3 linked regions of the Homo sapiens genome follow. The protein of the gene in region 2 binds, or shares a complex with, the protein of the main gene of each other region. Each region holds a gene or a part of one and is shown on either strand. Other genes may lie near its edges. The genes, in order: EIF2S1, EIF2B2 and EIF2B3. A codon is read from its position in the direction of its gene.

Region 1 (10,867 bases), 7.6 Mb from region 2:
TTTTTATTCTCTTTATAGTGTCTTTAAAGAACATAAGTTCTTAATTTTGATAAGGTCCAATTAATCAATTTTTCCTTTCATGGATAACGCTTTTAGTGTGCTATCTAAGAAATCTTTGCCTAATCCAAGGTCAGAAAGATTCCTGTTTTCTTCTAGAGGTACTTAGAAGTTTACATCTATGATTCATTTTAAGCTAACTTTTGTATAAGGTGAGGTGTTTGAATTGAGGTTCTTTTTTGCATATGGACATCCAGTTGTCCCAGCACCATTTGTTAAAAAGATAATTTTTTCTTTGATCAGCTGCCTTTGTACTTTTGTTAATTAACTGATCATATAAAAGCACACATAAATTTTTTAATTTTTTTTTTAAATAAAAAGAAGTGAGAGATAACAAAAGAGGTGAGGTCCTGCTATGTTGCCCAGGCTGGTCTCGAACTCCTGGGCTCAAGTGATCCCCCCACCTAGGCCTCCCAAAGTGCTGAGATTACAGGCCTCAGCCACCATGCCCAGCCAACATAAAGTTATGACTGTTAAACCAAACTGGCATTCCATACACTCCACTTGGTCATGCTTTATTATCCTTTTTATACATTGTTGGATTTGAAAAACATATTAATTGTTTTATCTATGCTAATCACATATTTGGTCAGTAATTTGCTTTTTTACAAAAACATGTCTTTGTTGGGTTTTCTTATCAGGGTTATGATGGCCTCATAAAATTAGTCATGCACTGCATAACATTTCAGTAAACAATAGATTGCATATATAGCAGCAGTGCTGTTAAGATTATAATACTGTATTTTTACTGTATCTTTTCTGTGTTTAGGTACACAAATATTTACCATTGTGTTACAACTACCTAATCAGTATAGTAACATGCTGTACAGGTTTGTAGCCTAGGAATAATAGAGTATACTAAACAACCTATGTGTGTATAGGCTATAAGGTCTATGTAAGCAGCACACTCTATGAAATTTGCATGATAAGACATTTTTCAGAATGTATCTTTGTCATTAAGCACCACATGACTGTATTTCGAAAGTGTTCCCGCCTCCTTAACTTTTTTTTTTTTGGTGGGAGACAGTCTTGCTCTGTTGCTCAGGCTGTAATACAGCAGTGTGATCACAGCTCACTACAGCCTCAAACTCCTGGGCTCAAGCCGTCCTCCCACCTCAGCCTCCCAAGTAGCTGGAACTACTTTACAGGTACACACCACCACACCCAGCTAATTTTTTAAAATTTTTATAGAGATGGGGTCTCCCTATATTGCCAGGCTGGTCTTGAAATCCTGACCTCAAGCGATCCTCCTGTCTCAGCATCCGAAATTGCTGGAATTATAAGTGTGAGCCACCGTGCCTGGCCTACCTCCTTAACTTTCTGAAATTTTATTATGACTCATCTTATTTCTGCCTTAAATGTCTGATACAACTCATCAATTTAACCATCTGGCCTAGAGTTTTCCTTTTTTTTGAGACAGGGTCTTAGTCACCCAGGCTGGAGTGTAGTGGCATGACCTCGGCTTACTGCAGACTTGTTCTCCTGGCCTCAAGCAATCCTCCAACCTCAGCTTCTCTAGTAGCTGGAACTGACTAGAGGTGCACAACACCATGCCTGGGTAATTTTTCTACTTTCTGTAGAGATGAGGTTTCGTCATGTTTCCAGGCTGGTCTTGAACTCCTGGGCTCAAGCAATCTGCCCACCTCAACCTCCCAAAGTGCTGGAATTACAGACATGAACCACTGTGCTGGTCAGGACCGAATTTTCTTGATGAAAAGATTTTTTACAATAAATTCAATTTCTCTAACATATAGGACACTCAAAATTTCTATTTTATATTGGTCAGTTTCAGTAAGTAAAATTTTGCAAGGAATTCACTAATTTCACCTGATTTGTTGAGATGATTGGCATAAAATTGGTAATGATATTCCCTTATTAGCCTTTTAATGTCTGTAGCATCTGCAGTGATAGCCCCATTCTCATTCCAGATTGGTAATTTGTGTTATTTCCTTTTCTTCATCAGCCTAACTAGGGGTTTATCAATTTTGCTCTTTTTTAAAAAAACAAAAAACAAGTTTTTAACTTTGATACTGTTCTCTGATTTTCTGGTACTCTATTTTCACCGATTATCTTATCCTTATTATTTCTTTTCTTCTACTTACTTTGTGTTGGGAGAAAGCCCCCTAAAATCTAGCCATAAACTGGCCCCAAGACTGGCCATAAACAAAATCTCTGCAGCACTGCGACATGTCCATAATGGTCCTAACGCCCAAGCTGGAAGGTTGTGGGTTTACAGGAATGAGGGCAAGGAACACCTGGCCCGCCCAGGGCAGAAAACTGCTTAAAGGCATTCTTAAGCCACAAACAAAAGCATGAGTGATCTGTGTCTTAAGGACGTGTTCCTGCTGCAATTAATTCGGCCCATCCCTTCATTTCCCATAAGGGATACTTTTAGTTAATTTAGTATCTATAGAAACAATGCTAATGACTGGTTTGCTGTTAATAAATATGTGGGTAAATCTCTGTTCGGGGCTCTCAGCTCTGAAGGCTGTGAGACCCCTGATTTCCCACTTCACACCCCTATATTTGTGTGTGTGTGTCTTTAATTCCTCTAGCGCCTCTGGGTTAGGGTCTCCCCAACAGAGCTGGTCTCAGCAACTTTGAGTTTACCTTTCCTTTCTTTTATCTTCTAAAACAAAAGCCTAGATAACTGTTTTAGATCTTTATTCTTTTCTAATATAAGTAATTAAAGCTATAAATTTTCCCTTAAGGCTTTAATATATGAATTATTTGGAAGGGCTTATTTAATACTGCAAACTCTTCCCTCCCAAGATATGACACTGATTTCAAAATTACTTCCAGTGTGATCAGAGAACATATTTGTATTCCAACCCTTAGAAATTTATTTAGAGTTGTATTAATATTATAGCTCACCTTATTGTCTATCTTGGTGAATGTCATGCACACTTGAAAATAATGTGTATTTTGCCTTTTCTGGGTGCAGTGTTCTAGGTATCAAACAAGTCAAGGTCTTCATTGATCTAATTGTTTCTCCAATTGTTCAGAGCTTGTTCAAACTTCCAACTATGATTATAGATTTGTCTATTTCTCTCTTGAATTCAATTTCTGCTTTATATTTTGAACTCTATTATTAGGCACATACACAGTGATGACTGTTGTTTTCCTTCTAACAAATTGACCCTTTATCATTACAAAATGTCCCTGTTTAAATCTGAAAATACTATGTCTTTAAATCTACTTTATCTAATATTAATAGACACTGTCTCCTTAAGGTATTGTCTGCATAGCATATCTTTTTATATCCATTTATTTTCAACCAAGTATATCTCTTGTAGACAGGATTATCGTCGAGTCTTGCTTTTTAATTCATCCTAACAATCTCTGCCTTTTAGCTGGAATATTTACTTGATTTACATTTAATTACTGATATAAATGAATTCAGTTGTATCAATAACTGAATAATTGAATACCTACATTTTAGGTATTTGTTTTCTATTTGTTCTTTCTGGTTTTTGTTTTTTTCTTTTGAGTTTTCTTTTAGGTTAATGTTTTCTAGAATTCCATTTTAATATATCTTTGGCTTTTACAATAGTGTATTTTGTATTTTACTTACTTATTTCTAGAGATAGTTTCACTATGTTGCCCAGGCTGGTCTTGAACTACTGACCTCAAGTGACTCTCCCACCTCAGCCTCCCGAACAGCTGTGACTACAAGCACAGACCACTGCAACTGGCTTATTTAATGGTTGTTCTAGAATTTACAATATACATCCTTAACCTTTTAATTTTACTACTGCACATAAAATGTAAGAATCGTTAAGAATCATATAGATCTATTTACCCCACACCTCCTGGCCTTTGTGATTAAGTTGTCAAGTGTACTAAGCCTGCTTTAAACAGTATTCTGTTTTCTTAGCTTCTATATTTAACTACTTGGCATCCATTAATCACAGAGCCAACTGTATTAACTATATATTTTATTATTAATATTATTAGTAGTAACTAAATATTTTCTTATTTTCTGTATTCTTGAGGCTCTGACATTTGTGGAGAGACTGCCCCTCCGTCAGGTGGGGAGGAGTCAGCAAAGGGCTTGCTTGGTAGCATGCCTTTCTTATGCAGAGCAGCCAATCTGGAGCCCATAAACTCATACACCAAGCCAAAATTCTCCCTGCTGTAAGTCAAGGGCCAGGTATTAGACAAGCAGGGCAGTCTTTATGCCCCAAGGCCCGCCAAAAGCATTCAAACTAGCCAACTGCAAGCCGTTTACGCTGCTCTGCCTTGCTTTTCCTGCAGAAACTCCAACAAAAGCTCTGACCTACTTTTTCCCCTAGTTCCTTGTGACTCCTGACTAAAACTGGTGCTTCCCCATGTGGCCCTGCATGGCACATCAAGCCCCCTTCTCTCAGGCAATATAAGTAGTAAAAGTTTTCTTTCAAGGGCATTGGACTGTGTCATCACTCAGTCACCTCTATAGATTACAATCCCACAGGCACAAATGAGACAAATAGTTAAATATATTTTTAAAGAAACTAAGAAGGGCAAAAATAGTCTTTTACATTTACCTATATATTTTCCATGTCAGGTCATCACATCTCTTCAGCTTAAAGAACTTCCTTCACCTCTCTCTTTTTTTTTTTTGAGACAAGGTCTGGTTCTATCACCCAGGTTGGAGTGCAGCGGTGCAATCTTGGCTCACTGCAGCCTCCGCCTCCTGGGCTCAAACCATCCCCCTACCTCAGCCGCCCGAGAAGCTGGGACTACAGGGTGCACCACCACGCCCAGCTAATTTTTGTATTTTTTGTAGAGATGAGGTTTTGCCATGTTGCCCCAGCTGGTCTTGAATTTGTGAGTTCACGCAACGTGCCCACCGTGTTCCATTCCATGCACCGTATTTATGAGAATGCTGACCAAGTGTAGAACACTTAGCACAAAGTGACCTGGATGGGGTGGGGCGTGGTGGCTCACGCCTGTAATCCCAGCACTTTGGGAGGCCAAGGCGGGTGGATCACAAGGTCAGGAGATCAAGACCATTCTGGCCAACATGGTGAAACCCTGTCTCTACCAAAAATACAAAAATTAGCTGGGCATGGTGGTGTGTGCCTGTAATCCCAGCTACTCTGGAGGCTGAGACAGGAGAATTGCTTGAACCAGGGAGTCGGAGGTTGCAGTGAGCCAAGATCGTGCCACTGCACTCCAGCCTGGCGACAGAGTGAGACTCCATCCCCCAAAAAAAGAGAATATAGATTTTTTGTTTTAGCAGGCAGTCAGAATCTGAACTCAAAACTATAAGCTCTGTCTCCCCAGATGGTAAGCAACTGAAATCTGTTCAGATTTTTCCCCTATTAGGCTACCTGGAGTCCACCCTGTGTTTCAGTAGTTCAGGGACAAACCAGAGATTTGGGAAGAATTTATATAGACTTAGGGGATCTCCCTTTGTGCCTGCCGCCTCCTTTCTCTAACCCTCACCACTATCACCACCAGTTTCCATCTACTATGGTTGTCTACAACTCTCGCCTCCAGTTCTAAAGCCAATAAGACCATAAATTTTCTGCTAGAACCTTAGCTGCCTGGCTTGAAGCTGTCTTCAGCATGTACTTAGGTCAAAAAAAAAGGTGTAAAACAGAAAACATACCCTTTCTTATAAGTGTCGACTCACCTTCAAATTTTCAATTTTGGCCTGCTTTTGGCTGCTTCTCATTGTCTTTAGGTAGTTATTTTTCATACTTGTTCAGGGTTTATGGCATTTACGTTGAAAGGCTTGTCTAGGAGGACATAATTCTCTAGTATCAAAATGAATCCTCTCTACAGGCTCTTTTGCACTTTGCTTTTTCTCATCCTATCCTGGAGATCTTCCATATCAAAATATTCAGATCTCATTCTGCATAAAATTGCATTGCACGCATTTGTACTGATTTATTTAACCAGTCCCCATTTTGGTCATTTCCTGGTTTTAGTTAATGCCATACAAACAAATGCTATGGAAATATCTTTACATGTATCTACTGTACGTAAGCAAGTATGCCATTCCATATTTTTTCTGATTGCAACTAAAAACATATTTGATTCCTCCTTTTGTGTATATTTTATACAATAGAAAAAGAAGGCTGAGCACAGTGGCTCACACCTGTAATCCCAGTACTTTGTGAGGCCAAGGCAGGAGAATCGCTTGAGCCCAGTTCAAGACTAGCCTGGGCAACACAGCAAGACCCCATCTCTACAAAGAAAGTTAGCTGGGCAGGGTGGCACATGCCTGTAGTTCCAGCTACTTGGGAGGACTGCTTGAGGAACACTTGAACACAGGAGTTCAAGGCTGCAGCGACCTATGATCATACCACTACACTGCAGCCTGGGTGACAGAGCAAGACCCCAATTCTTAAAAAAAAAAAAAAAAAGTACAAGATTAGACACTACTTTAGGTACTACTAGGACAGTGATGTGAAGACTTACCTAAGTTTAACAAATAGTCTCAAAGTAGTTTAATAATTTTGGGCGGGGCTATAGCTAAGTCATAGCAAAACATTTAAAACAATCCATGTGCTAAGTAGCAGTCACTACCTAAGGCATAAGACATCCTCAAAATCTATGTATCATCTAAGGCTATAATAAAAAAAATTAAAATGTCAGTATGTATAAAATTAATCACTTGCAGAAGTGAGAAAGTATCAGTAAACCAGACGGCTGAGGAGATTCAGAAGGGTAAGTTGAATCAAGGTGACTGATATGAAGCCTTTCGGACATGATGGTAACTAATGACCTAAAACTAACACCTAACAAATTATAGTAAGATGGCTGAAACTAAAACCTACGTAATGGTATTGTACACCATGTTTAAAAAAAGAGTATTCACAAAGGTGATGATTTACATGGGGCCCAGAAAAGGCATCCAATAAGTAAAAAATGAATGCTCATCCAAAACTGTCTGAAAGATACCACGAGATCTGGTAGATGCAAACATTCTAATTACCAGCAAGATATACAATGTTGGATTTCAGGTGTGTATATACACGCATAGTATATTGCTTTTTCAAAGCTTATATAAAAGATCCCTAAAATCCATTTGCCCCATTTTCATGCTTACCCAGTGATCTCATTACTATTTTAGCTTTAAATCAAGAAAAAGGCATCCAACATATTCAGGCCTACCAATGTAAATGAACTAGTACTCTGACTTACCTGTCTCTAAGTTTGGTTACCATGAGTCAATTATCAAGATCCTGATAAACACTAGAAATAAAATTCAAGTTATCTGATCCATAAAATCCTAGGATGTACTAATTAAACTACTATTAAGAGATCTTGCTTAGATAGCTAATTGGCATCCTTTTCTAACAACTTTGTATGTAAAAGGTTTAAGTATAAAAGGAGCTTTTTTTTTTAAGCTGCAGCTTGCAATTTACAAAAAATGTATTTTTAAATAAACCATTTTAAATCTGAAATTTATATTACAGATATTTTTCTCACTTACCTTTTTCTTTGTCCACCCTAATGACAACCACACACTCATTCCTGCCAATTCGGATGAGTTTGTTGATAGAACGGATACGCCTTCTGGATAATTCACTAAGAAGAATCATGCCTTCAATGTTGTTGTATTCCAGCAAGCTGACATAAGCCCCCATTTCAGCAATGGATCTGACATTCACCATCACTACATCTTCCACCTCAGGAAATTTGTGTTGATAAAATCTACAACTTAGACCCGGCATTCTGCAATTTAAACAAAAGAATTAAGTAAGTATTCAGTTAAGGTGAAAATAAAAAAAAAATCAATTTCCACATCCTGCCACTGAAAGAAAAGATGAAGAAAAAAATAGTTATTAGTCTTAGTCTTCTCATCCTTTGAAACTTCTTAAGTGGTACCAGAAAACAGATAATGTTCAGGAACCAAGCTTTAATTTTTATTTTGCTCAACATTTTTGTAATGCTTGGGTGATTCTCTGCCTTTAGTTTCAGAGGAATCATAAAAAATAATGACCATCTATAAAGTACTCCAAGACCTAAGGATTAAAGGAATACCTCAAGAGTAAAATACTACTTTAAGGCATATCAAATGATGGGAAGCATCACTATTATAACTAATCAGAAAACTAAAGCTACTCTTTGCCGAAGTGAGCAAACATTGTATACGCTACCACTCACTATATAAAGGAAAAAATTTTCTACCTAAACCCTAACCAATATACCAAATGATACATTCTGTCATTTATTATAGCCAAAATTACAGTGTCACATGTCAAAACAACAAAAACTAAAAAAATTTTAATCACAAAATAAACTAAAATGCATCCTCCTCTCATAATTCTTTTTCCTTGAATTCACAATGTCTAGCTTCTCTTATCCCCAATACTCCCAAATATTCCTTTCTTTTATTGAATAGGTATACCTAATCTTGAGAATAGCTTTAATCTCCATTACTACAAAGTTCAAGTTTCTCTTAACCTCCAAGCATTAAAGATATTTACAATTATTCCCTTTGATCCACCCAACCTACTTTCAGCACTACTCCTTTTATGATCCACAAGCCTGAAATCATAGCCTGGGTAGAAGCATATTTAAAAAAGGAAGCTCTCAAACTAATCATGGCTGATGATTTTCATGTTTTTCTGTTAACCTTCACTGTTGTCACTGCTCAAAACGTAGGTAGTAACAGAACTTAAAGGCCTAAGAAAACCTTGTGAAAATTCATATAATAACTTATTAATTGGCACCTGCCTATATCTTCTCAGTGGCTTCCCACTGACTTATGTATCTTTCCACTACCTACAGAATCCTATATGATCTGGCCATTGCCTATCTCCTTGTGGTACAACTTTCTCCCTAGTTCTCCCCATTTTATAGATTAAAAAACTGAAGCACAGGTTAAGTTACTTGTTCTTTCACATACTGCTAACAGGTGATGAGTCAGGATTTGAATCCATGAAGTCTGGATCCAGAGTCTGTCCTCTTATCAGTAAGACTATATTCTCTCAAAACTATTCATAAATATATTATAATTAGAAACATTTTACTTAAAAAGCAACATTAATATATATTCAGTGCCAGAGTACATAACACCAATAAGTGCAAACTATTAGTACTCATCTGTTTGACAACAAAGAGCAGCATATTAATGACAGTAGCAGAGATGTATTTCTTTGTAGGGAATACAAAATCCCTACAAAATAGGGATTTAGCAAATAAAGAGAAGTAGACATTCAATGGCCTTACCCACCAAGAAACAGCTGACTGTTTGTTTCGTTTTTAAACAGGGCTTTTCGAGGGTGGGGGTGGGGAAACTGTTGTTGAATATGTGTATGTAAAGCTCTCAAATTTGAGAGCTAAAAAGTTTCAAATTGGGCATAAAAATAAACTATGTTACAGAAATGTATGGAACAGTTGCAAGACATTTGACCAGTGAAAACCACATTTACTTACCAAGCTTCTCCAAACAGTAAAGGTGATGCTTTTAGGGGAAGCAAGGCTTAATTTGATGGTTAAAAAACATGGGCAATCATGTAAGAGAATCCTGAAGGGATATGACTATGAATACTATTTCTTCAGGAGGCACAAGTCTCTTTGCAACATAAAGGGTAAGTAAAGGAATACTGTTGATGGTATGTTATTCATAGTAAAGATAGATAGTAGTTAAGTACAAAAAGAATCCATACCACAAAAACCTGCATATTGGTTGACAATTTTTGAACATATTGCCTAATGAAATGCTAATAACTTAAATTTTTTTTTTAACTTAAAAAAATCATTCCGCAATATCGAAGTCACACTAGGTGACTTCACCTCTTTATCTTTTTCACAGCATTCTTATTTTATTTGGTCCTCAAGAAGTGTCAAATCAGGCAATTAACATAGTAAACTCGGGGAACAACTCTAGCCTTGTGTTCCAGTCCTTGCTCTGCTACTTACTAGAAGTGGCTGCTTGGGAAAGATAACATCCTTTGAACTGTAGTTTCTCATCTGTGCCATGTACATCACAGGTTTACTGAGGGTATCACATGTATACGTAAAAACATTTTGAAAACCATTATGTGCTAGTCAAACATAAAATATTGAAAGAAAAAGAAGGTATTTCCATTTTGTAATATAATAATTTGTTAATTTTTTTTTCAGTAGCTACTATGTACTAAGCACTAATGATACAACAAGAAAGACTCTTACCAGGCCAGGCGCAGTGGCTCACACCTGTAATCCCAGCACTTTGGGAGGCCGAGGCGGGTGGATCACTTGAAACCAGGAGTTCGAGGCCAGCCTGGTCAACATGGTGAAACCCCATTTCTACTAAAAATACCAAAATTAGCTGGGTGTGGTGGCAGGCACCTGTAATCCCACTACTATAGTGGCTGAGGCAGGAGAATCCCTTGAACCCAGGGGCAGAGGCTACAGTGAGCTGAGATCGTGCCACTACACTCCAGCCTGGGCAACAGAGACTCTGTCTCAAAAAAAAAAAGAAAAAAGAAAAAAGAAAAAAAAAAAAGACTCTTACCTAAGTAATTAAGTATAGAGTGGGAAACAAACTAGCAAGCAAATAATTACAATACAAAGTACTATGAAAGGGCACAGTGAAGCAATGAACAGGAAAGGTGGAACAGAAATACTAAATTATAATACTTCCTTAAGAACAAATGCTTAATAAGTACTAGCGTAGGAGCTAAACTCAAGTAATCCGACATCAAATCCAGAATGTCTTTAACCCACAGAACCTCAATATCACAACATGCTATAATACTCTTATGTGTTCTGATGTAAAAAGTATCAGCCACCTTTCAAAATATATCAACCAAACTCCAGGCTAATTTCAAATACCCTGCATAGTCAGTTATTTTGCATGACAAATGGTAGGTAGGACTTCTTT
Region 2 (8,885 bases):
AACACTTCCAAATCACATTTCAAAATTGTTCTTTCATGTCAACTAGGTGCATGTCTGCTAAGGGAGTTTTTGCAAGGACAGGTGGATAGTGTGAGGCCTTTACAATAATCACATCACCATCTGGTACTATCTGTATGGCAGAGCAGTTCTGATGTAGTTGTAGTATTATAGATCATTACAGAGTATGCCAGTCATTCCATGATGGAACTGTGACTGGCAGCCTTCATTAGCCCAAAGACTGATGCAACAGATTGCTTTGAGAAATAGTTTTGAAGCACATCCATGAAACATATGATCCTATGGGTTCCAGCATTGATTTCTTTGAGGTATCATTTTACACTTCAGTTTTTCCTGGTAGAGTATTTTTCAGAGATGTCTCTTCTGAGGCTAAATTAGGAATTTCTGTTCCTTATTCAAGTTCCAAGAATTGTGCCTTTCCTGCCCTCTGCCCAAACTGGAAGATAGAAACCGTGGGAAAAAAGTGTCTTTACAAACTGCACTGTTATCTAACTTGGTTTATTTAGCATATTGAGGAAGACTTTCACATCCATGGAATCCTAGTTCTATTAATTCTCTCCAAGCTACAACAGTTGTTTTTTTGTTTGTTTTTTTCCGAGTTTCTCGGTTCCGCCAGCAAGGCAGGGGTGGGAGGTGGGCACCCCTGATACCAAGGCTGACAGGTAGTGAGTTGATGTGGAACTTCTGTTTCCTCCTGTTCAGTTCAGGTTCTCTCTTTCTGATACTTACCCCTCCTCAAATAGGGAAACGGAGAGAGGGGAAATAAGAAGATGAGCCTTAATAGGGTTTACTTAATTGGGGTCATAAAGATTCTAAAAAGTATGCATTCCTGCAGTTCTGTTCTAGGCACTGTAAGAGCTGACCAGAAAGAGAGCTTCTACCCTTATAACCTTCATCCAACTCAGTCATGCCTGGGAAGGATGTTGGTGCTAATTTTAGACACAGAGACTAAGATGGACAAAGGACAAGTATCATAAAGCATTTTTGGAGCCAGGAACAGATTTAAGTTCCTTGCCTCACTGCTGCTCTTACTCCAAACCACACAATTGTACCCAAGTGAATTGCTGTTAGAATTGGTGCCTTTGGAGGAGACAATTGCTCGTAATTGGTAGCTACAAGCCACTTCACTGAGAAAGCGTGGGGTCTTAGATGCTTTAAGAAATAATAGAAAGACTGAGCCTGAGTGAGTCAGGCTCTTCTGAGTCATACAGCTTTTAGGTCAGTGTAAAATGCCGACTTTCTGAGGTCTTACTTTTTTCCCCTCTCTGGAAGACCTAAGGCAAAGATCGCTCTCAAAGAGATATCAAAGAATAGAGACCTTTCCCTCAGAACCTACCTCTGCCCAGTGTTAACCAAAATGTGGTTTCAAATCACCTGTTCAAAGCCCACAGGCTATTTGTTAAACATGCAGATTCTTAGTGCTCCCTCCACCCACACAGACACTGCACAAGAGGCCCTGCTTTGGACCACTAGTTCCTAAACATGGCAGAAAATCTGGATCACCTGGGAGACTTTTTAGGTTAAAAACCGGAAACAATATGTAAGCATAAACATGTCAACAAAATTAGAGGATGTCCCTCTGCTTGCTGTGCTTGGTATTATACTTCTATACTGTTTCCCTATGCGTGTACATATAATTTTGTTTTGTTTTTGTGAGACAGAGTCTCACCCACTGTTGCCCAGGCTAAAGTGCAGTGGCCCAATGGCACTGCTCACTGCAACCTCTACTTCCCAAGTTCAGCCTCCCGAGTAGCTGGGACTACAGGTACCCACAACCACACCTGGCTAATTTTTGTATTTTTAGTGGAACTAAAAATTTTATTATAGTATTTTAGTTTCGCCATTTTGACCAGGCTGGTCTCAAACTCCTGACCTCAAGTGATCTGCCCTCCTCAGCCTCCCAAAGTGCTGGGATTATAGGCGTGAGCCATTGCGCCCAGCCAGTGTTGTTTTATGGAAATGAGTCCGTATTATGCATATTGCTCTGCAGCTTGTTGTGTTTTTTTTCCCCAGCTTGTTTTTAACTAACAGAGTATCAAATGGACTTCCTTGCAAATCTGTCCCATTCTTTTAACACCAGGATCACAACTCAAATGCCTACAGGGGTTAGGCAGATAACATAAATGAGTTAAATGGATCCAGTAGGAACTGCAGAAAACTGGAGATGTTCCATCCAATGGCATCAGATGTTACCCAACCACAAACTAACTACTGCCATTTGGAAATGTTGGCCCAGAGTTGCCAAATTTGAGTTTTCAAGAAAAGCAAGAAATCTGAATTTTTGAAATGTGCAATCTCCAGATTTTTAAATATTGGTAACAAATTCACATTAAATGCAGTGAACCAGCCCAAATGCCTTCAATCCAGACACTGCCCCTCCAGCCATCCTTTTGAAACTTCTATTGCCATGTATAATGTTCCACGGTGTAACTGTCAATACTTAACCTTTCTCCTATTGCTGGACACTTAGGCTATGACATTACAACTACTACACTGAACACTCTGTATAAATCTTTTTGCTTGTACAAATAATTCTAGAAATACAGCTTCCAAATTGCCCTCTAAAAGGCTGTACCAATTTATAGTCCTATAAACACTACATGAGACTATCCTTTTCTGGGAAGCTTTAAACAGATTCCCAGGTAGTAACCCTGAGATCAGATGCAGTAGGACTGAGATGAAACCCAAGACTGTGTGAGTGAGTGATCGGAATCACTCTCAGGTGATTCTGATGATCAGCGAGGTTTTGGAACTACTGTTTTAGACTATGAACAAACTTTGGGGCCAGGAGCAGTGAATTGTAAAGGAAACTATACTTTCATTTGTACTTGTTATTTTTTTAGAGACAGAGTCTTGCTCTATCATCCAGGCAGGAGTGCAGTGGTACAATGATAGCTCACTGAAGCCTTGAACTCATGGGCTCAAGTGATCCTCCCACCTCAGCCTCCAGCATAGCGAGGCCACAGGCATGTGCCACCATGTCTGGCTAATTTTTTAAAATATTTTTTTGTAGAGACAGGATCTTGCTATGTTGCCAGGCTAATCTCAAACTCCAGGCCTCAAACAAGCCTCAAACAAGCCTCCCACCTCAGCCTCCCAAAGTCCAGGATTACAAGTGGGAGCCACTGCATCTGGCCAGTACTACCATGTTGTACACTTTTCCCGCTAACTACAGCCCTCTATGCAAACACAAAAAAGGCTCTGCTGCTGCTGTTTCAAGCAGTTCTGTCAGAGTAGGACAATAAATAAACCAACTATGGAACCTTCAAGTGGCTTTTATTGGTAGAGCCTAGAAAAAGTGTCATAGCCATTTCTGAGCAAAAATCTGTATCCCAGTAAGGTATTCAGTGTTATGTTTAACACACTACTGAACCAGAAAGTTTAAGTTCCTGACACAGACGCAACCAGGTCACTAAGAGGCTCCAAAATCAACAAGTTAAGCCCTGCTGCTCTGTTAAGATCTGAAAGGCAAGACACAGTCCTGGATGTGTGCCCTTGTTACGGGGTGACTAAAAAGGCAGGCAACAGTATCAAGGATTTTTTTTTTAGGTGGACTCCTGTGCACTCCCACATTGCAAGGATGTGCTTCAGCAGCAACACTCAAGTCTCCTCTTCATTCTGTATCTGCCTAAGCAATCTGCTTAGGACACGTGTGGTCGGTCATAAAACATGATCATCAGGATGGTAGAGTTCACTCATCAGGCGGTAGATGTAGGAAGGTGCATTCCCACCAATGTTGGAGATAAAGAGGGTAATGAGCTCTGGGGGAACGTAGTCAAACACAGGGCAATGCACGCTGACCTTCTCCAGAATGTCCCCTGAAAGGCAAGCACACATGCTAAAGGTAAAACTGAGGCTCCCTCTCTCATAATTAAGTAGCATATAGATTCCAGGCTCGAGAATGCAGGCATATTAGCTCCCCAAGGACGGGAAGCTATGGAAAAATGCAAACCAGAAGAGATGACTTCAGATCATGACAATCCCTGCTTACAACTCTCCCATGCCTCTGCACAGCCCTCAGAATAAAATTCAAACTCAGGATTGAAGTTTAAGATCTGGGCCCTCCCTGACACACCACATGAATTACAATTTGGACCACTCTCCCCCTTGCTCATTACTGTCTAGCCATGTATGGCCATCCTTTTCTAACTGGCTAAGCCCCTGCACCAGCTCATAGAAAACTATGATCTTCATATGGTGGACTCTGTTCATTCAGGACTCAGCTGAAATGTCATCTCATTAAGACCCTTCCTCAATCTCAGGCCCCTAGCCACTTTCTACCACATCAGCCTTGCTTGTCCTCAGGCATCCCATGACCTGATACTTTCTCATCTGTCTTCCACAATAGAATGTGTGGGAACAGGGCCTTATCTTTTTCATTCATTGTTTTATCTTCAGTGCCTAGAAGAGTGCTGGATACATTGTAGGTGCTCAATAACTATTTCTTGAAGATTGAATGTTTATTTAAATAAAGGGATGAAGTCAATCAACTTCCAAGAGGAACTAGGACCCCAACCAACTACTATGCGTTGCTCTCAGATGGTGTGTAAGGCCACCCTTGCTGATGAGGCTGCACGCGTAATGAGCTGAGCTGCTGCCTTCAGAAGAAGCCAGAGAAAAGAACCCCAAGACATGAGACTATCCAGGCTACAGGTGAGTTTTCTAAGGAGGAACATTTCACAACCTGCTTCCTTTGGGAGTCAATTCACCAAAATGACTCCTTATAGCAGGAAAACAGGTACATTTTCCCAACTGGTTGTTGTCTATATCTCAAACAGCATGCAAAGCCAAACCCAGACAATGCTAAATGATCCAACCCACAATAGCCCCAACAAATCTAAAATATATTTGTCTCAGAACAAATTAACATGGACTTGGTCAGGTCCTCAAGCACTTTGAGCTTCTAAAGAAAACAGTCCCCACAAGAAGTATGATAAAAAACACAACTTGACAGCATTCAGTTCTACTGACCAACAAAACAACAAAAAGACCAAAACACATGCACACACAAACCCCGAATACACACAACACATGCACGCATGCACACACAGCTTCTGTACCTTCTGTGAATGGCAGGACTTCTTCAGGAGCCACAAACTTATGAAATGAGTCTTCTTCATTGGGGAACTAAAAAGGAAAAAATTTATAAAAACTAGAGACCCAGCAATTCCACTCCTAGGTATGTACCCTAGAGATGAAAACATATGTCCACACAGAAAACTTATACACAGATGCTTATAGCAGCATTATTCACAAAAGCCAAAAGCTGGAACCAACCCAAATGCCCATAAACAGATGAATGGATTAATAAATTGTGGTATGTTCATATAATGGAATATTATTCAGCCTCGAAAGGAAATTCTGACATTACAACATGGATGAACTTTGAAAACATCATGCTAAGTGAAAAAAGTCAGGCACAACATGTCACATATTATATGATTCCTTTTATACAAAATGGGCAAATCCATAGAGACAGGAGCAGATTGGAGGAGATGGGGAGAAGGACAAATAGGGAGAGATTACTTAATGGGTACAGGGTGTTTTTCTACAGTGGAGAAAAAGTTTTGAAACTAGAGAGTGGTGGTTGTACAATGCTGTGAATGTACTAGATATCACTAAATTGTATACTTTAAAATGGTTAATTGTATGTTATGTGAATTTCACCTCAATTTAAAAAATAGAGACCTATAAATAGGTTGATGTTTTCAAAGCAAATAGCTTCTATCACTGATGAAATGGCTCTTCACTTAGTCCTTGCTTGTATTCAGGTTACAAAGGACAGGCCCTGCAACAATAACAAAACTGATTCTATGATCCTACTTTCAACCTGCTTGGCATTTTCAGAAATGGTCAGGCGACAGGGAGTGGTGGCAATCGTAAGCAAAGGACCTTTCCCAACTACATATTGTCCTTACAATCTTGACTTCCTAAAGTTGACAGCTGAGAACTCTCAACTGTTTTACTGAATCAAGACTTCTGTGGTTCTTTCCAGCCTCCACTGGGTGTAATCCATTGAGTAAATGCAGATAAATGGAGGCCCTGGAGTGAGGTGGTTGAAGTCCCAGAGTTCAAGCCTACCCTTTGGCTTCCTTCTTTTCTGCTGGCTTCTAGCTAGAGACAGACACACTTACCTGTGGAGAAAGTTTGAACATAGGTGCACAGACGATGAGTGGGGTGGAATGGTGTTTTGCTGCCAGTGCCAGAGTGTGAGTTCCTGTCACAGCTCTCAGGGCCCCATTGGCCAGGATGGTCTTCGTGCCAATGATCACCTTTGGGACAAGACAAAAAATGTGAGCCATCCTGGGGGTGGAGCCCTAAAAGGGCCACTGGCCACAAAAAGCTAAATGCTTAGACCTCAGAATTGGTATCGTGAGGGGTCACAGACTGGTAGAGGTGAAGGGATCCCTGGCTCAATACAAGTTCTAGCTTAAAAGTAGGTTTCCAAGGAAAGAATGAATGTAAAATGGGACAAGAAACTGCAAAACCTACTGCTCTCAGTCCCATATTTTCTGGAAATTGAGATGCCATACCTTCTGAGAAGCCAGGAATCTTTTTCATTCACTATCCACAACTGCCAAGCTCTTTGAGCATAAGGCAGGAGCCCTGTAGCCAATCCCTAGAAACTGACACTCTTGCCTTAGTTCTATTTAATACTTCATTCTTTTCAATGCTTCAACCAAATTTAGAGGCTACTCCAAGAGAGGAACAATGATGCAGAAAAAAGGGAAAAGAAATTCAGTTAACAGATTAAAAAGGCCTAAGTATGTACTTTGAAAGGTGCTAGAAACTTTATTCTCTCACCGTGGATATTACAGGAGGAGATAAAAATCAATATTTTAGAAACATAATCTTCATGAATTCAACATAACTCCAGATATACCCACCTTGTTGACTCTTGACATAACGGCAAAAATGGCAGCATCAGTCATGACAGTTGTCTCAATACCTGCTTTGGACAAATTCACAGCCATTTCATGACCCTGCAATGGGAGGGAAAGGCTGATTCTAAGAGAAAGAGTGAGAAATAGTGAAAAGTGCTCTCAAATGTAACTGGATCTGGGGAATTGTGTGATATGGGCATATCCAGCACATAATTTCCAATAGATAACTCATTTTTCGGACAACTGATTTTTCAGACTCTCATAGCTCTGGTAAGCTGTAGGGAAGCCCAGGGGAAGCTAATAAATGTCTAATGCTCCACAGCAGCACCAGAGCAGCCATAAAACTGGAAATACAACATGCATGTATAATATAATCACGATTGCTGACAAGATAGCTCCTGGCTCATTATTTTAAAACAACCTGCATCCTTACATATTTCCTTTTTGAGACCTATTATTTACTTAGGATCAAGTGAGGTCAGACCAAGCATTAGTCATCCCCAAGGTAATTTACCCTGCTTTGATTCCTAAAAGAATCAAGTTATCTTTCCTTGAACCCAGCAGCTCGCCATCTTTTTTTTTTTTTTTGAGACAGAGTCTTGCTCTGTCGTCCAGGCTGGAGTGCAGTGGCGCTATCTTGGCTCATTGCAACCTCTGCCTTCCAGGTTCAAGCAATTCTCCTGCCTCACCCTCCAGAGTAGCTGGGATTACAGGCATGTGCCACCACGCCCAGCTAATTTTTGTATTTTTAGTGGAGACGGGGTTTTGTCATGTTGGCCAGGCTGCTCTCGAACTCCTGACCTCAGGTAATCCACCCGCCCAGCCTCCCAAAGTGCTGGGATTACAGGCATGAGCCATCGCTCCCGGCCCCAACTTTCTTAAACCACTATTTATGAATGTTCACAGGACGAACACCTTGAAAATTCACTTAATGTTTTACTTGATCTTCTCAGTGTCTCAAAGTCTTGCTTATCAATTCAAGGTTGGAATGGCCCTACCCATCTCTCGTTTATTTCTTCTTCATTTTTCATTTTTCTTAGTAGCAACTCCAGCAGTCTCCTTACCTGGCAGAAAGGAGCACACTCTGCTACAATGACATGGAATTTCCTCTTTCGGGCAGCCTCTTTGAGGAAGGCCTCTACTGTTCGGGAGAAGCCAATGGTCATGATCACCTCATTGGAGTGAATGTGCTCCAGAGCCTGGGCTGCAATGTTCTCCATTGTCCCTTCTGTAAGAACGGTTTTGCAAAAAAAAAAAAAAAAAAAAAAAAAAAAATATATATATATATATATATATATGAAATTGCTATATCACAAACACACATTACGCGTATACGGAAAAAGATGTCTGCCCTTCACATGCACTGCCCACCTAGCAGACCCTGGTACCACAGGGTTAATGTGCTTAAAGTGAAATGTCACAATTTCTTTTTTTTTAATAGAGACAGGGTCCCACTATGTTGCCCAGGCTGGTTTTGAACTCCTGGTCTCAAGCAATCCACTCACCTTGGCCTCCCAAAGTTGTGGGATTACAGGTGTGAGCCACCATGCCCAGCTATGTCACAATTTCTTAAAAGCCCCACTCCTCTGGGATTTTCTGCCTGCCCTCTTCCAGAAGTACCCCTACCTATGAACCACCTCTGTCACTACAGAGCTCCTTACAACTGATTTTGAAGACAGTAGATTCAGCCAAGGAATGGCAATCTGGGAAATCCTAAAGTGCTGAGAATAGGGTAAAGAGAGCTTCGGCCTAAAAGAAGTCTTCCTCCAAAAGGTGGCCACAACACTTCTACATGAGAGAGACTGGCCAGAGAAGAAAAAATGGGGGAGCAATTTGGAAGCAGCTTCTTCATCCTCTGATTACAATGAATATCTGCAAGTCACTTGGACCGCAATGACAAGGGGGATAGAAATGGTATACGTGTACGTGTGTATAAAAATTCAGATAGTGAAGGAGGTCTATCGACCTTGGCTCTCTAGGGAG
Region 3 (11,659 bases), on a different chromosome or scaffold from region 2:
GGTGTGTGGATCACATGAGCTCAGGAGTTCGAGACCAGCCTGGGCAACATGGCGAGACCCCATCTCTACCAAAAATACAAAAAATTAGCCAGGGGTGGTGGCTTGTGCCTATGGTTCCAGCTACTTGGGAAGCTGAAGTGGGAGGATCATTTGAGCCTGGGAGGCAGGTGTTGCAGTGAGCCGAGATTGAGATTGGACCACTGCACTCCAACCTGTGTGACAGAGTGAGATCCTGTCTCAAAAAAAAAAAAAAAAAAAGAGAGAAAAAAGAAAATATTAAAAGATGCCTGACTAGAATTAACAGCAGAAACACAAGCATGTTAGGCTTCTGAAAAGTATGAAATGACTTAAGACTCCTCCAATAATTCAGCCATCGGCTCATCTTATTCCTCCAATTTTTAAAGATATCACTATAAACACAAACGTAGGCTTGTATCTGAACCTAGATTTACAGAACACAATTATAAAAACAAACCAAACTGTTAATTCCTTTTTTCAAACTCAAGGTAATAAACAAACCTATTTGACTTTGAAAAGAATCTCTTTACAGAAACTACCACAGAACAGAGGCACAGTAGAAGGTCATAAATCTTTATTTATGTATTTATTTTTGGAGATGGAATTTCACTCTTGTTGCCAGGCTGGAGTGCAATGCCGTGATCTCGGCTCACTGCAACCTCCACCTCCCAAGTTCAAGCGATTCTCCTGCCTCAGCCTCCCGAGTAGCTGGGATCACAGGCATGGGCCACCATGCCTGGCTAATTTTGTATTTTTAGTAGAGATGGGGTTTCACCATGTTGGCCAGGCTGGTCCCAAACTCCTGACCTCAGGTGATCCACCGGAGTCGGCCTCCCAAAGTGCTGGGATTACAGGTGTGAGCCACGTGCCCATCCTATTTATTTATTGTTTATTTAGAGACAGAGTCTTGCTCCATTGCCCAGTCTGGAAGTGCAGTGGTAAGATCATGGCTCACTGCAGCCTCAACCTCCTGCACTAAAGCAATCCTCCTGCCCCAACCTCTGGAGCAGCTGGGACTACAGGTGGGTACCACCATGCCTGGCTTTTTTTTTTTTTTTGAGACGGAGTTTCTCTCTTGTTGCCCAGGCTGAAGTGCAGTGGCACGATCTCAGCTCACCACAACCTCTGCCTCCCAGGTTCAAGTGATTCTCCTGCCTCAGCCTCCCAAAGAGCTGGGATTATAGGCATGCACCACCACGCCCAGCTGCCCAGCTAATTTTGTATTTTTAGTAGAGACAGGGTTTCTCCACATTGGTCAGGCTGGTCTCGAACTCCCAACCTCAGGTGATCTGCCCACCTTGGCCTCCCAAAGTGCTGGGATTACAGGTATGAGCCACTGCACCTGGCCGCCTGGCTAATTCTTTTAATTAATTTTTTATAGAGATGGGGTTTCACTATGCTGCCCAGGCTGGTCTCAAACTCCTGGCCTCAGGCCTCCTGCCTGGGCCTCCCAAAGTGCTGAGATTAGAGGCATGAGCCACTGCACCTGACCGATCTTTACTGATTTAAACTGAAAGTACTTTCTCTTACAATGATGTAATTTTAAGAACAAATGTGTTAAAATGTAACGTTCAGAAGAAACAATCTATTCAACATCAAATTGCCAAATAATGTTGCAACTTTACTATAATTATTATTACTCCTGGGCCCAGCACATCAACATCTAAAGTGCAGCACTTAACACCTACTATACCCAAGGCACAAAGTGAAGGCTCCTGCATAACATTCACAATGTAAAGATATGGTCATGTAGATTCTAGCAAGCATTGCCTCAAAGTGTAATTTAATTTCATTTTGGTATTATATAACATCCACCACATCAAATGTTATTATGAAAAGAGCACTGGACCCTTAAGAGTCAAAAGATGAGCTGGACGTGGTGGCTCACGCCTGTAATCCCAGCACTTTGGGAGGCCCAGGCGGGCGGATCACCTGAGGTCAGGAGTTCAAGAGCAGCCTGGCCAACTTGGTGAAACTCTGTCTCTACTAAAAAAAAATTTTTTTTTTTGAAACAGAGTTCTTGTTCCCCAGGTTGAGTGCAATGGCATGATCTTGGCTCACTGCAACCTCTGCCTCCCAGGTTCAAGCGATTCTCCTGCCTCAGCCTCCCAAGTTGCTGGGATTACAGGCATCCGCCACCATACTTGGCTAATTCTTTGGATTTTTAGTAGAGACAGGGTTTCACCATGTTGGCCAGGCTGGTCTTGAACTCCTAACCTTAGGTGATCCACCTGCCTTGGCCTCCTAAAGTGCTGGGATTTCAGGCATGAGCCACTGCGCCCGGCCTCTACCAAAAACATTTTTAAAAGTAGCCAGGCATGGTGTCAGGCACCCGTAATCCCAGCTACTCAGGTGGCTGAGGCAGGAGAATCACAGGAACCCGGGAGGCAGCAGCTGCAGTGAGCTGAGAGCACACCACTCGCACTTCAGCCTGGGCGACAGAGTGAGACTCCGTCTCAAAAAAAATAAAATAAAATAAAAAAGAGCCAAAAGAGCGCCAGGCACAGTGGCTCATGCTCCCAGCACTTTGGGAGGCCAAGATGAGAGGATCACTTGAGCCTAGGAATTCTAGAACAGCCTGGGCAACATGGTGAGACCCCATCTCTATAAAAAATTAGCCAGGTATGGTGGCGCATGCCTGTAGTCCCAGATACTCGGGAGGCTGAGGTGGGAGAATCACCTGAGCCTGGGAGGTTAAGGCTGCACACCACTGCACTCCAGCCTGGGCAACAGAGTGAGACCCTGTCCCAAAAAAAAAAAGTCAAAAGATGAGTTTGAGTCATGATTCTGACACTCATAGGTGTGATCAGGGGCCTGACATTTAAAACTCTCAGTGTCCTCAGCTTCTAGAAGGAAGCCTGGTGGTTAGGTTCACAGACCATAGAGCTAGAATGCCTAGGTTTGAATTCTAGCTCTACTATTTATTATTAGCTGTGTGAACTAGGGCAAACTACGTAAATTTTCTATGCCTCAATTTTTGCATTTTATGATGGGGATAATTATAGTTTCACTTCACAGAGTTGTTGTTAAGATTAAATTTGTTATTCTACGTAAAGCAGACAAAATAATGTCCATCTTTTTTTTTTTTTTTTTTTTGAGACGGAGTCTCGCTCTGTCGCCCAGGCCGGACTGCGGACTGCAGTGGCGCAATCTCGGCTCACTGCAAGCTCCGCTTCCCGGGTTCACGCCATTCTCCTGCCTCAGCCTCCCGAGTAGCTGGGACTACAGGCACCCGCCACCGCGCCCGGCTAATTTTTTGTATTTTTAGTAGAGACGGGGTTTCACCTTGTTAGCCAGGATGGTCTCGATCTCCTGACCTCATGATCCACCCGCCTCGGCCTCCCAAAGTGCTGGGATTACAGGCGTGAGCCACCGCGCCCGGCCAATAATGTCCATCTTATGAGAAGCACTATATTTGTATTTGCTTTACTAGACAGAGACTAGATTATGGAAAACCTTCGTACTAATTGAGCCATGCTGCTTCATAATTCTGGTCTCTGCACTGCTACTGTTGCTTCCTAGTCTGCCTTTCTCTTGTGTCTAGTAATCACCTATTAAACTTTGAAGACAGCTCAAGAATCCTCTTGCCTACAAAGCCATTCCTAACCGTTCCCACCCCTCCAGAAGTGACTCCTTTTCCCGAAGTGCTTCCATTCTGCCATGTGCAGATTCTCTTAGCCTTTACGGGTTTCATTGCACGTATGTGTTTAAATGTCTACTTAAGTGTAACATTAATGTCTCTTAAATGTCTACATAAGAGTGTAAGAGTGACTTTCTTGGACTGTGTGTGCATCATCACTGTATTCCCAGTCAGATGCCAGAAATCAAAGTGGAATGAGGACCTGTGAACTTCACAACTGTATAAGAGTCAAACTCAAACATGTGCATAAGGGCATTAGAACCCAGGTCACTAGGAACTGAGGTTCCAGCTCTCAAGGAGGCCCTGGGTGAAGAAAGGCAACCTAGGAAGCATGAATAGTAATCATGAACATAACTAATCATGCTACCAGGCAGACTGTCAAATGCTCATGTCACTGCCACGACTATGGCTGACGGGAATCATGGCAACGAGTCTCGCTGCCTCCCAAGCTTTGGAGAGGGTGTTCACCGCATCTCAGACTTGCCTGCATCATAGCACTCATGCCTTTTCCAGTTGTAAATAGATAAGAAAACTGTATCAGAATTGGTCTGTCATTCCACGTGTGCTGCCTGAAGGCAGAGACCTCACTGCTCCTCCCTATATTTCACTGCCCTGCATCCAAACAACTAAAGGCAGGCTGAACAAATGAATGAAGGGCTGAGGCTGAAAGAGTGCAGGCACAGTGCTAAAGGCGTCTGGTACCGGTCTGGTGCTCGCTCACTCGCTGTGACTTTAAGCAGAACCCTCCCCGAAACTTCGTTTCTTTCTTTTCTTTTCTTTTTTTTTTTTTTTTTGAAACGGAGAGTCTCACTATGTTGCCCAGGCTGGAGTGCAGTGGCGCGAATTAGGCTCACTGCAACCTCCACCTCCTGGGTTCAAACGATTCTCCTGCCTCAGACTCTCGAGTAGCTGAGATTAGAAACTTAGTTCCTCCATCTGTTGCATAAGGTGGTTGGCTCGGATTCTCATCCCCAACCTCCCTTCTACTTCGGACACAGCTACACCGGGTCGAGCAGGGAGTCGAGCTGACAACTTCGGGGCTCAGCACCCTCTCCTACCCCTTCGGGTCCACCTCGGCCCAGTTCGACATGCCCGCCTCCCTCAGATGAGTGGCCCCACCGCACTGCTCACCCGGGTCAGCCAGCTTGTGTGCGGCCTGGCAGGGCAGAAGTCACAGCTATAACTCAGCTCCCGGCACGCCGCAACCGCTCCCAGCGATCTCCACGCCGCCTCTGACTGACAGCCCAATGGCGCAGGCGCGCGATGGCCGAGAAACTCGATGGAACGCGCAGAGCAGACCCATGGAGAAGAGAAGACCGCCGAGCGATGGATGACGGAGGGGAAGCACACTCAGCGGAGAGGAGGGAAGGCGGGCCGGAGGGGGCGGGGCCACCGAGGAGCATTCGACACGTGTGTCCCTCTGTCCATTAACACATTACCAACGCCTTTTGAGTATTCCTCCCAGTGCAGGGTGCCGGGAACCCAGACGGAACAACTCAGCCTCTTTCCTCAGGGAGTAAGTCTAAGACCTGGCTTCGAGTACATTCGGTGAAAGAAAGCTCATTGGGAGCCGCAATTTTGGCTAGCTAGTGAAAAAAATCACCGAATGCCCCTGCAGGGGTTGCCAGGACTTCCTATTTGTTTTTGTTGTTGTTGTTGTTGTTGTTTGTTTTTTGTTTTTTTTGAGACGGAGTCTCGCTCTGCGTCGCCCAGGCTGGAGTGCAGTGGCGCGATCTCGGCTCACTGCAAGCTCGGCCTCCCGGGTTCACGCCATTTTCCTCCCTCAGCCTCCCGAGGAGCTGGGACTACAGGCGCCTGCCACCATGCCCGGCTAATTTTTTTGTATTTTTAGTAGAGACGGGGGTTTCACTGTGTTAGCCAGGATGGTCTCGATCTCCTGACCTCGTGATCCGCCCGCCTCGGCCTCCCAAAGTGCTGGGATTACAGGCGTGAGCCACCGCGCCCGGCCCGGGACTTCCTATTTGTAACAGGGCCACTCACGTTAACTTTAGCCATCAAAACTGGGGGCGGCTGGGCATGGTGGCTCATGCCTGTAATCTCCGCAATTTGGGAAGCCGAGGTGGGAGGATTGCTTGAAACCGGGCGTTCAAGACCAGCCTGTGCGAGAGAGCCTCCAGTCTCTACAAAAGTAAAAATTAGCTGGGCATGGTAGTGTGTGCCTGTAGTCCCAGCTGCTCAGGAGGCTGAAACGGGAGGATCGCTTGAGCCCAGGAGTTCGAGGCTGCAGTGAGCTATGATCGGGCCACTGCACTCCTCCTGCCTAGACGACAGAGTGAGACCCTGTTTTTTTTTTTTAATTTAGTTTTTATTTCATAATCATAAACTTAACTCAGCAATCCAGTTAGGCATGGAAAGGAACAAGGAAAACATGGAACCCAAAGGGAACTGCAGCAAGAGCACAAAGATAAGATACTGCGAGCAGGCCGGGCGTGGTGGCTCACGTCTGTAATCCTAGCACTTTGGGAGGCCGAGGCAGGCAGATTGCCTGAGCTCAGGAGTTCAAGATCAGCCTGGGCAACATGGTGAAACCCCGTCTCTACTAAAATACAAAAAAAAAAAAAAAAAGAAAGAAAGAAAGAAAGAAAAAATTAGCCAGGCATGGCGGCGTGCGCCTGTAGTCCCAGCTACTCGGGAGGCTGAGGAAAGAGAATTGCTTGAACCCGGGAAGTGGAGGTTGCAGTGAGCCGAGATCGTGCCACTGCACTTCAGCCTGGGAGAGGGCGACAGGGTGAGACAGCGTCTCAAAAAAAAAAAAAAAAAAAAATACTGCAAGCAAATGGGGTGAAGGGGTGCTCTTCTGAGCTACAAAAGGAATGGTCTGGTGGTTAAGATAAAACAAAAGCCAAACTTGTTAGAGTTGTCCACAGTCAGCAATGGTGATCTTCTTGCTGGTCTTGCCATTCTCGGACCCAAAGTGCCCCATGGCCTCCACAATATTCATGCCTTCTTTCACCTTGCCAAAGACCACAGGATTGCCATCCAGCCACTCAGTCTTGGCAGTGCAGATGAAACACTGGGAACCATTTGTGTTGGGTCCAGCATTTGCCATGGACAAGATGCCAGGATGTGTATGCTTTAGGACGAAGCTCTCGTCATCAAATTTCTCCCCGCAGGTGTACTTGCCACCAGTGCCATTATGGCATGTGAAGTCACCACCCTGACACATAAACCCTGGAATAATTCTGTGAAAGCAGGAACCTTTATAACCAAATCCTTTCTCTACATTGCTCAGAGCACGAAAGTTTTCTGCTGCCTTTGGAACCTTGTCTGCAAACGGCTCGAAGGACACGCGGCCCAAGGGCTTGCCGTCGACAGCGATGTCGAACACGGTGGGGTTAACCATGGCTGATCGTACAGAGCTCCTGGCGTCGGTGGCTGCATTTGCAAAGCCGAGACCCTGCTTTTAACAAAACAATAATAGGCCAGGTGCGGTGGCTCACGCTTGTAATCCCAGAAGTTTAGGAAGTGAGGCGGATGGATCCCTTGGGCCCAGGAGTTCGAGACTAGCCTGGGCAACGTAGTGAAACACCCTCTCTACTAAAAATACAAAAATTAGTCAGGTGTGGTGCCGCGCTGTGGGGTTCCAGCTACTTGGAAGGCTGAGGCAGGAGGATCGCTGGAGCCCAAGAGGCAGAGGTGGCAGTGAGCCAATATGGTATCACTGCACTTCAGCCTGGGTAACAAAGAGACAGGATCTCTAAGTAAATAAAATAAATATTAAAAAATGACGAATAGATAATAAAATAATTGTTGTTCTAAGCTCTACGGTTTGGAGTGGTTTATCAAGTTGCACTAGATAACAGGACCAATGGCCATTCTCTTTTTCCCATGCATTCCTGCAATTTCCTAATCTTTTGAAAGCTTCCTTTTTTTTCGATTAATTAATTTTTTTTTTTTTTTGAGACAGTCTCACTCTGTCACCAGGCTGGAGTTCAGTGGCACAATCTTGGCTCACTGCAACCTCTGCCTCCTGGGTTCAAGTGATTCCTGCGTCAGCCTCCCGAGTAGCTGGGACTACAGGCATGCGCCACCACGCCTGGCTAATTTTTGTATTTTTAGTAGACAAGGGGTTTCATCAGATAGGCCAGGATGGTCTTGAACTCCTGACCTCGTGATCTGTTCGCCTCGACCTCCCAAAGTGCTGGGACACAGCCGTGAGCCACCGTGCCCAGCCTGATTCATCTCTTAAATCTTGAGTTGCTTTAGCTTCCTGCCAGTTAAAAGGTAGAGCATGATTTCTGTAATAAAAATAAAGGAGCTTGACTTCATTCAACAATATTTATTCATTTATTTTTAGAAATGAGGTCAGCTTATGCTGCCCAGGCTGGACTCAAACTCCTGGGCTCAACGATCGTCTTGCCTCAGCTTCCCAAGTAGCTAGGACTACAGGTATGTGCCATGGAGGACTGGCTTCAACAATATCTTGAGTGCCTAATATGTGCCAAGCAGTGTCTTAGATGCTTGGTGTTGCAGATACAGCAGTTAATGATTAGGACTTGTCATTTTTTCCAGAAGGAGGTCTGCTTAGACCCTGAAAAAAAAAGGGGGGGACTCATATCCTAAAACCAGCCTATCTTTGCCTTGCCATGAACTGACTGATCTGGCCACAGGAGGCCTGAAGTCTGACTACCCCTCTATAGAAACACAGAGATATTCTCTCTTTGGTATTACCTCAACCAAGACTTGGAAATTACAGCATGGGTTTGAGGTAAGAACTAATTATAAGTAAGAAGAGCAGTCAGCCCCATATCTGCCATCCATTTCAAATCCTTATGTTTAAACTAGCAAATGTTTTTCAACGAACTAGAGGGTTTTCTCTTCTATTGTGGAAAGTAGTTGAGAGATTGCTTCAGTTTAAACTCACTTTAAATTATTCCCTGAGGGCAACAATTCTCAAACTTTTTCATCTCTAGACTCTTCATACTTAAAAATTACTGAGGACCCCAGAAAGCTTTTGTTTATATGGATTATATTTATCAATATTTACCATATCGAAAAAAAATTATTTTTTTGACACGGAGTTTTGCTCTTGTTGCCCAGGCTGGAGTGCAATGGCACGATCTCAGCTCACTGCAACCTCTGCCTCCCGGGTTCAAGCGATTCTCCTGCCTCAGCCTCCCAAGTAGCTGGAATTTACAGGCATGCGCCACCACACCCAGCTGATTTTGTATTTATAGTAGAGACGGGGTTTCTCCATGTTGGTCAGGCTAGTCTCAAACTCCTGACCTCAGGTGATCCGCCCGCCTTGACCTCCCAAAGTGCTGGGATTACAGGCATGAGCCATTGTGCCTGGCCAACTACATTTTCAAAACAAAAAGTTTAGTGAGATGAATGCCATTGTTTCACCTTTTTGAATAGTCTCTTTAGGGTCTGGCTTAATAGAAAACAGCTTGATTTTTCCATTATTGTAATATATTATTTTGGTTTAATTATATCATAAAAATGTGACTTCACATAGATACATAGTTGGTAAGAGATAGAGCTTTTAATAGCCTTTTCAGATAATTATAGGTATTCTTTGACACTATACCAAAATTCAATAAGTGGTAGTTTGTTAAAGGTTTGTTGCAATGTAGAATCGGAAATTATATCAATGAACATTTTGTACCTTGTTACAGTACTTGCACTTTGAATGGACATTTTACCCATGCATGACCTTGCAACTTGGTATACAAATAATATGTAAAATATTCGTTCACAGAGTTATGCAGATCTTCCTAACATTGACTCATTATACAATATTTTAAAATCACATTTGTTAATATCACTAACAATTTCATCAGAAAAATTCTTAAATATTAGAAAGCTGGGAAGCTGATGATGACAGATACAAGTTTTATAAAATTCTAATTTTTGGCCGGGCACAGTGGCTCACGCCTGTAATCCAAGCATTCTGGGAGGCCGAGGTGGGCAGATCATGAGGTCAGGAGATTGAGACCATCCTGGCTAACACGGTGAAACCCTGTCTCTACTAAAAATACAAAAAAATTACCCCGGCATGGTGGCAGGTGCCTGTAGTCCCAGCTACTCAGGAGGCTGAGGCAGGAGAATGGCGTGAACCCGGGAGGCAGAGCTTGCAGTGAGCTGAGATGGCGCCACTGCACTCCAGCCTGGGCTACAGAGTGAGACTCCGTCTCAGAAAAACAAAAACAAAAACAAAAAACCCCCAAAATTTTAATTTTCTCTTCAAAGCTCATTGGCAGCAAATACTATTAGTGGTTTCCCTTGAAGTAACTGGCTCACTTTGTTTATACATCGGCAGGCATAGTTGGTCAGTTCTTTTTTTTTTTTAAATGAAAAACCATAATATGCCCTTCATTTGCTTTTAGCTATTTCATAAACATCACAGATAAACTGGACACAGTTTGCAATGCAACTTAGAAAAATTTCTTTTTCCATAACATAAACATGTCAATCTTTCCCTTTAGTGCCTTCTTCCACTCCTCCTCCACTGTGCTGAAGAGATATTGAGTTCTTCCAGATTTTTGCTTAGCTGGGTGGTTTCCAAACTCAATGGACTCTCTAGGTAGGTAATTCCTGCACAGGGCTTTCCTGTCACTGGATTTATGATTTTTCCAACTTTGAAAACAATCTCGGCCAGTTCATGTTTCACATGCTTTGTTCGCGGAACAGGTAAAGCTCTGAGAAGCACAGTATCACCAACTGTGCACTGCTGAAGGGCATCGTGAGCAAAGTAGGTTTTCCGCTTATTGTAATACTTTAATAAATAGGGATCCAGAACAAGCCTGGTCACTCTCACTTTAGCAGTCTTTTGCATTTTTGTCCCAATCACCTTCCCCACGATCCACTTGGCATGGGTGGATGAATGAACTACGGACATTATGTGGCTTTGGTCACCTCCGCCACGACTGTGCAGCCACCTCCAGTTGTTCTTTCGATTCAATATAGTGCTCCATGAAAAAGCAGTAGTTCAACTCGCAGCTCAAACTATCACAAAACTGTTTCTCTTGGAGACAACCATCATACTTCTTTTGTATGCACAGAAGGGTTAAATGTGTACTTCCCATCTCATCATACAGAATATTAAAAAGACACATACTCAGTAAACTAGTATATTTGGTAGCAAAAAAAAAAAAAATGGGCTGGGCACAGTAGCTCACGCCTGTAATCCCAGCACTTTGGGAGGCCGAGGCAGGTGGATCACGAGGTCAGGAGTTCAAGACCAGCCTGGCCAACATAGTGAAACCCTGTCTCTACTAAAAATACAAAAATTAGCCGGGCACAGTGGCGTGTGCCTGTATTCCCAGCTACTTGGGAGGCTGAGGCAGGAGAATCACTTGAACCTGGGAGGTGGAGGTTTCAGTGAGCCAAGATCATGCCACTGCACTCCAGCTTGGGCAACAGAATGAGACTTCATCTCAAAAAAAAAAAAAAAAAAAAAAAAGACATGTACTCAGGCCAAGGTTTAATAAAATTAATATAGTTTACTGCTTAATCAAAGACCTTCTTAAGTGTAACTGACTTTGTTTAATTTTTTTTCTTTCTTTTTTTTTTTTTTTTGAGATGGAGTCTCACTCTGTCGCCCAGGCTGGATGGAGTGCAGTGGCGCGATCTTGGCTCACTGCAGGCTCTGCCTCCCAGGTTCACGCCATTCTCCCACCTCAGCCTCCCAAGTAGCTGGGACTACAGGTGCCCACCACCACACCCGGCTAATTTTGTTTTTGTATTTTTAGTAGAGATGGGGTTTCACCATGTTAGCCAGGATGGTCTTGATCTCCTGACCTCGTGATCCGCTCGCCTCAGCCTCCCAAATGCTAGGATTACAGGTGTGAGCCACTGTGCCCGGCCTGTTTTTGTTTTTGAGATAGAGTCTCACTCTGTCACCCAGGCTGGAGTACAGTGGCATGATCTCAGCTCACTACACCCTCCACCTCCCGGGTTCAGGCAATCCTCCTGCCTCAGCCTCCCAAGTAGCTGGGATTACAGGTGTGCGCCACCTGGCTAATTTTTGTATTTTTA

What was found.
Region 1: the proteins of EIF2B2 (region 2) and EIF2S1 are in contact, whole or in part, in a cryo-EM structure (PDB 6K71), measured with the Homo sapiens proteins. Residues at the interface, in NP_055054.1 of Homo sapiens: Glu92, Arg95, Gln128, Ser131, Asn132, Glu135, Ala136, Glu139, Val142, Glu143, Glu145, Glu149, Asn150; in NP_004085.1 of Homo sapiens: Leu51 (codon at 7,577), Ser52 (codon at 7,574), Arg53 (codon at 7,571), Arg54 (codon at 7,568), Ile56 (codon at 7,562), Asn60 (codon at 7,550), Lys61 (codon at 7,547), Leu62 (codon at 7,544), Arg64 (codon at 7,538), Arg67 (codon at 7,529), Lys87, Ser91.
Region 3: EIF2B2 (region 2) and EIF2B3 share a complex: the UniProt entries of both Homo sapiens proteins name them as parts of the translation initiation factor 2B (eIF2B) complex.

The regions. Positions count from the first base shown.
Region 1 is NC_000014.9:67,361,628-67,372,494, reverse strand, and holds part of EIF2S1 (eukaryotic translation initiation factor 2 subunit 1), read right to left. Parts: intron 7,729-10,867; 5' UTR 7,728-7,728; coding exon 7,487-7,727; intron 1-7,486. UniProt on the Homo sapiens protein: Member of the eIF2 complex that functions in the early steps of protein synthesis by forming a ternary complex with GTP and initiator tRNA. This complex binds to a 40S ribosomal subunit, followed by mRNA binding to form a 43S pre-initiation complex (43S PIC).
Region 2 is NC_000014.9:75,003,982-75,012,866, reverse strand, and holds the end of EIF2B2 (translation initiation factor eIF2B subunit beta), read right to left. Parts: intron 8,131-8,885; coding exon 7,967-8,130; intron 7,002-7,966; coding exon 6,906-7,001; intron 6,291-6,905; coding exon 6,153-6,290; intron 5,146-6,152; coding exon 5,079-5,145; intron 3,837-5,078; coding exon 3,679-3,836; 3' UTR 501-3,678; downstream 1-500. UniProt on the Homo sapiens protein: Acts as a component of the translation initiation factor 2B (eIF2B) complex, which catalyzes the exchange of GDP for GTP on eukaryotic initiation factor 2 (eIF2) gamma subunit.
Region 3 is NC_000001.11:44,981,704-44,993,362, forward strand, and holds the start of EIF2B3 (translation initiation factor eIF2B subunit gamma), read right to left. Parts: upstream 4,893-11,659; 5' UTR 4,790-4,892; intron 1-4,789. UniProt on the Homo sapiens protein: Acts as a component of the translation initiation factor 2B (eIF2B) complex, which catalyzes the exchange of GDP for GTP on the eukaryotic initiation factor 2 (eIF2) complex gamma subunit.